Linked DNA regions of Homo sapiens: region 1 is linked to region 2. The links come from fine-mapping of genetic effects on gene expression. A gene starts in region 2. The other region holds a variant in brackets. All regions are shown on one strand. Distances are from middle to middle. Region 1 overlaps YTHDC2 (YTH N6-methyladenosine RNA binding protein C2). Region 2 holds the start of YTHDC2 (YTH N6-methyladenosine RNA binding protein C2).

What was found. PIP is the estimated chance that this variant, and not a neighbour inherited with it, causes the effect. A credible set is the group of variants that fine-mapping cannot tell apart.
Region 1: its variant is the best candidate, but not a certain one, in a credible set for the expression of YTHDC2 in aorta (GTEx, PIP 0.54).

Annotation. Positions count from the first base shown.
Region 1 is chr5:113,562,462-113,565,385 of GRCh38, reverse strand. It overlaps YTHDC2 (YTH N6-methyladenosine RNA binding protein C2), which reads right to left. Exons shown (of 30, transcript NM_022828.5): 19 at 1,894-2,013; 20 at 1,255-1,527. Among named protein-coding and RNA genes, the nearest start is that of YTHDC2, 50 kb to the right of the region's middle. The variant C/T (reference allele first, on the strand shown) is at 1,207.
Region 2 is chr5:113,512,074-113,514,997 of GRCh38, reverse strand. YTHDC2 (YTH N6-methyladenosine RNA binding protein C2) reads right to left here and starts at 1,304. Exons shown (of 30, transcript NM_022828.5): 1 at 916-1,304. The coding sequence starts at 1,102. LOC124901046 (a long non-coding RNA gene) reads left to right here and starts at 1,340. Exons shown (of 2, transcript XR_007058905.1): 1 at 1,340-1,567; 2 at 2,058-2,924. RefSeq lists a silencer at 819-1,048 and enhancers at 1,001-1,502, 1,499-1,548.

The DNA of each region.
Region 1 (2,924 bases), 50 kb before region 2:
CAATAATTTATCCTCTCTGCTTTTGAAGGAGCTGGGGGAAAAGCAAAGAACAGATAGAAATTCTACTCTAAATCTCCCTCTACTTCTCACTCAACTATCTACTATAATATATGGTATTTAATATACCCAATTAATAACAATGAGTTATCCATTGATCAATACTCACAAAAGAGCTTGTAATTATTTTTGAAAATTATATGTGGTGAAAAAATCTTCTGTGTCTGAAAAAGAGTACTTTCTGCATAAACAAAGTTAGATTTTTAAAAAATATGGCTGGGCATGGTGGCTCACACATGGTAATCCCAGCACTTTGGGAGGCCAAAGCAGGCAGATCACTTGAGGTCAGAAGTTCGAGACCAGCCTGGCCCACATGGTGAAACCCTGTCTCTACTAAAAACACAAAAATTAGCTGGGCATGGTGGTGGGTGCCTGTAACCCCAGCTACTCGGGAGGCTGAGGCAGGAGAACTGCTTGAACCTGGGAGGCTGAGGTTGCAATGAGCCAAGACTGTGCCACTGCACTCCAGCCTGGGTGACAGAGCAAGACTGTCTCAAAAAACAACAACAAAAAAATGTATAGACACAGTCGACATTCAAGAAGATTTGAGAATAAATACAATGCCTATGTTTTCAAGAAATAACATATTCTTCCCCACATATCTGAAATTCTAAATTACATTTAATTTGTCTTCCCCAGGATCCTATTTTCCCCATCTTTTCTTTTCCATTTGCCTCTTTCCTCAACTTGCCATTACCATTATCTTAAAAGGTTTTTAAGTGATTTTTGTATTTTGCTTTACAAAATTAAGTTCTCAGCATAGTGTCTTGAGCAAACAAGAAAAAGGCTGAACTCTAAGAAAAATCGATAGATATTACATCAATATAATTTTCTTATAAGCTTTATTCTATGTACTTTAAATAGTATACAGTATTTCTTAACTGAAATTTTAGAACATTCCTTGCCCAAGACATGATTTAAAGAAACCTGGTAATAGAAGCATAAACACAAATAAATATATATACAAATACACACATATATTCCTATAAGGAGAAAATGGGAAAAAAGAGCAAAACTGTTTTAATTTTAACATAACAACAGCAAGAAGATATTTTTCAGGACTATTAATGTGACTTCATAATGAAACAAAATTAATGCAATTTTAAAATTTATAAATTATTTTTAAAATTCCTACATTTGCCCCAGAAA[C/T]GTGTTTACCCAGCAACGTCTTCAGAAATAAAATGACAGTAATAGTACCTGGAATGCTCTGAGAAGTGCCATATGGTCACTGAAAGCTCCTGCAGTAAAACGTTTCCTACAAAGCATAGCTGCACGTTTTTGAGAGGCCTGAGTAGGTAGTACAAAAGGATCTCGATAAGCTAGTGTGCAAGCAATTGTAAGGATGGGGTCCAGACACTTTAAAACAACAGCACACAAGACCATTTTACCAAGATGTGGTTCTACTGGCAAGTCAGCCAAATGATACCCAAGTTCAGTCAGATCTTCCCATGTATCCATTGCATCTATTGTCTAAGTAAAAGGAGACAGAACAGACTTTGATGTGAGCAAACTGTTTAATCAAAACACATAATTAAAAACCCCTAAATGAGAAATAAGAATATAGATTTTCTTTTGCTACTACATCTCATAAAAATATATTTCGTTTCTATTATACTATATAAAAGAACTATATCTACTGTTTCATACATGACAATATTATTTAAAGTACATGATCATTTAAGATAATTGTTTAAAAGTACAAAATTAGTTTATCTGGACACATGCAGGAGGACAAAAATAAAAAATAATTATACAAAATTAGTTAAGACATATTTCCTTTTAGTTTAAAATTTCAAGTAAAAATGTCATGTAAAATAAAACTATGAAGACACCAACCTTAAGCATTTGTACAGCATTTCTTACAATTAAAGCTGGTGGAGGTTCAGGAGCTTTCATAAGAAAATCAGCAATGGGACAATTAACTGGGGCTAACAGCTTGGTATGTAAGCAAAGTTCCTATAAACCAAAACAGTAAATAATTTTTTAAAATTAAAAAGAATACTAACCTACACATTTAAAGAAATCATGGGAACTACAGTTCCCAAACACAGACTAGTAGAGTCTCTGATTAGAATGAACAGTAGAAGGAACAATGTCTTTCTGTAAAAGATGAGCTCATACTTTGCCCTAGATGCCAGAACCTTAATAAATACCCTCTTCAATCAACTTATACCAAGATTGCCATTGCTCCCATTGGCAACATCTCCTCACACTGTTCGTATACATAACATTCATAGTCACTGTCCAAAAAAAAAAAAATCTTTTCCCCCCTTTATACTTACTACATTCTAGAATATTTTATCTACTCAGCAAATATTTAAGTGCTTTCTAAGTGCAAGGCCCTGTGCAAATTGGAGAAAAAGAAGGGGACAGAAGGAAGTGTCCATTCTCATTGAGTTTACACTGTAATATGAATAAGCAGACTTTAAATAATTAATTATATAATTAACTACTTAATTACGATTATCGTCAGTGCTATGAAGGCTATAGGGAGCTAAATAAGTAAATATGATTTAAGCAAGTTCAGAAAAGGGTGGGAGAGGGAGACCATGGGAAGTTACAGATAGTTTTCCTGAAGAAAGACACTTAAACTAAGATGTAAAGATTGAGTAGGAGTAACTATATAAGGAATAAGGGGAAACAATCTAAGGAGAGAGTAGATACCTGTGAAAGCTGTAAGGCAGAAGGAAAAAAGACGTGCTTGAGAAACTAAAACCAATGGTGTAAGAGAGGATAAGTAACAAGAAATCACCTGTTCCTTCCTTCCTGTGACTGGAGACACAGGCAGGAACAGGCAATTTACGCTCTTGTTAAGGATTGTGAATTTTCTCCCAGGAGGAACAGAAAATCACACATAAGCATTGGGA
Region 2 (2,924 bases):
CACCAAAAACGACTCCTCTTACTTGTTCTGGAATTTTGAGTTGGTATAATGACTGAACATATTTAACTTGGTCCCTACTTGTTTAGTTAACAAAATGTTTATTTTCTTCAATGATGAGATATGTTCAAATATTATGAATTCTCAACATGAAACTCCATTGTCTTTGCTTTCAAAACTGTACAGAATTCGTATTTCACTATTTCAGAGGGATTTGTTATATATTGCTGAGGCTTTCTCTTTTTTTAATGTGAATTTAGAATCTCTCTGTCTAGAACATTCCCCGTTTTGGACTATAAGATTCCAGAGTAAGAGGTCCCCTAACTAAGCCAGCAGGTCCGAATGAGCCCTCAACAGACTGCACAGGTCACCGCAGGTCAGTTGCTGGTTCTGCATTATATGACCCAAGACAAGTGGCTATCTAACCTCAAGAGGTGTGGAAGATGCTTCGTGTGCCAAACAAGTTTAATTTAAGTGGGTAGCGTGATGCTTCAGGGTCCAAACGTATTGCTGGTGCATTTATTTATATGTTTGATTTCTTTCTGCTCTTCTACATCTGTAGCTTAAACGTGCCACAATTAGGTGACACCCCCTTAAAAAGGGTTAGGGCTAACCAATATCTGAAACACGGTGGCTTAACCGCCCAAGGCTGCTGAAAGACGCGGGGGAAAAACACTTTCAGCTAGGGAGCAAAGTGCCCATAACCCCATTGATCCGCAGAGCACCTCGCATTCCACCGCAGGGCCAACAGCCGCGTTCCAGACCCGGGTGCCGCCGCTGAGGCCCGCCCCGGACGGTGGCCCGGGTCTTCCCTCCCTCTTCGGAGGCACCCCCATCACTCGGTGGGCCGCCGTTTGGGGGGCGCTGGGGTGAGGGGGGTATCCTGACTGCCAGCATGGTCCCTGTCCGGAACCTCACCTCTCTGGTCCCCGTATCGGAAGCGCTCCAGCGCGATATTGACTGCGATCTTCACCTCCTCATCAATGCGAATGTCCTTCAGCCCCTTGGCCCGGCCGCCGCCCCCAGGGCCACAAGGCGAGGGGCCGCCGCCTCCGCCACCGCCAGGAGCCGGCTGCCGCGGGGAGACGCTGCTCGGCCTGGACATTGCCCTGAAGAGATGGTCTCTCCGCACGGGAGCGGCCAGGCCTGCTAGCTGACAGCCAATGACAAAGACCGTGGGAATCCGGGGCCACTACCGGGAAGCTCCGGAGACGGCCTGTGTTGGGCTGAGGTCACCAGAAAGGCCTCAGTCACCGCCACAGCAGAAGTGAAGCCTGCGCCATTGATATCACGGCCAGGCGAGGAGCGCGGGCGTAATGACGTCACCAGGGCCGGCGCCCGTGACCTCAGCGCGGCCGCCGCTGCGCGCCTAAAGGAGGCTGTCTGCGGAGCTATGGTGCGGTTCTCTTCCCGCGCCGCCCACCAAGGGTCGCTCCTCATCTTCTTATTCACTCACTTGCTACTTCGTTTAGTCCTTCATTAATTCCTGCAGTAAGCATGTATGGGCTTCTACTGTGGACCTGGCATTATGCCACGCCTTCGATGTACATTGGAGAACCAGAGAGCCAAGGTTCCTACCTTCATGGAGTTTATATTTTAGTGGGAGGAGGGTTGCCAGATTTAGCAAATAAAAATACAGAATGCTTAATAATTTGCATTTCAGATAAACGAATAATTTTTAGTGTATATATTTCCCATGCAATATTTGGAAAAATATCATAAAAAATACATATACTAAAGAATGAGCCACTGTTGTGTGTCTTGCATTCTTCCCTTTTCTGAATGGGAGATTTTAATGCAAGTATGCCACCCTTGCTCTATCACGCTACACAGGGTAGCTGAGTGGGGGCAGGTATGTAGTACATATTTACATAGTTCATGAGTTACCTGGCAATGAGGATATACATCTGGATCTAATAAAGAGGACTGTGTATCAACAACAGATCCTGGATGCAGTGACTAGATAGAATTCCAGGTGTCTGGGGAGGGTATATGTGTATTCTGTGTGTGGTAAGAAGGGGGCGGAATATTTGGTGACAAGAAGTATCTTTTCTTCCTAGGCATTATATTTCCCAACTCTCCTGCAGTTAGCTGGGGGCCACATGGCTGAGTTCCGGCCATTGGAATGTTGCTGGAACTGATGTATACCACTTCCAGGATTGGTCTATAACACCTTCCTTGAATCTTCCCTTCTCTGTCTTTCCTGGTCTTCTGGAAGTTCTTAGACAACGGTGGAACCACTAGATAGATAACAGGTTCCCGATTCCCTGAACGAGTGTGATAGAGTGTCCTCACCAACCCACATTGGAATATGACATGGGTAAGAAATAATTCTTAGTTGTGGTAAACTGCTGAGATTTGGGAAGATTTTTTTTTGTAACATTATGGTAAATTGTTGAATTCATCAAAGGTATGGCCTTTGATGAATCACACATTCCTCTGTTCACACCCTTGTATTCTTCCTTCCCACATGGACTCTGTCTTTGGCTATGTAACTTGCTTTGGCCATTGGGACATCAGCAAATACGAGATAAGCAGGGGCTTGAAAGGTGTTTGTGCATTAAGGCTTAGCCTGTTTTGCTGCTGAGAATTCTTCTTCCACAAAGTAAAGAAGCTTAGGCTAGCCCACTGACAACTATGGCCCAATCATCCACCAGCACCAAGGGCAAGACGTGAAAAAGGCCATAATGGAAAGTCTAGTCTTAGAAAAGCTGCTGGATGACCACAACTCTGTAAGCAACCCAAAGCAAGATTAGCAAAACCACCTAGCTAAACATAGTCCAAACTGTTGACCCACAGAACACATAAACAAATAAAATGAATATTGCTGTAAGCCACTAAGTTTTAGGTTGGGTTTCTTACACAGCAGTAGATAACTGATACAAAGAGTTAGCTTATTCTGACTAATATATTTGTACAATGATAAG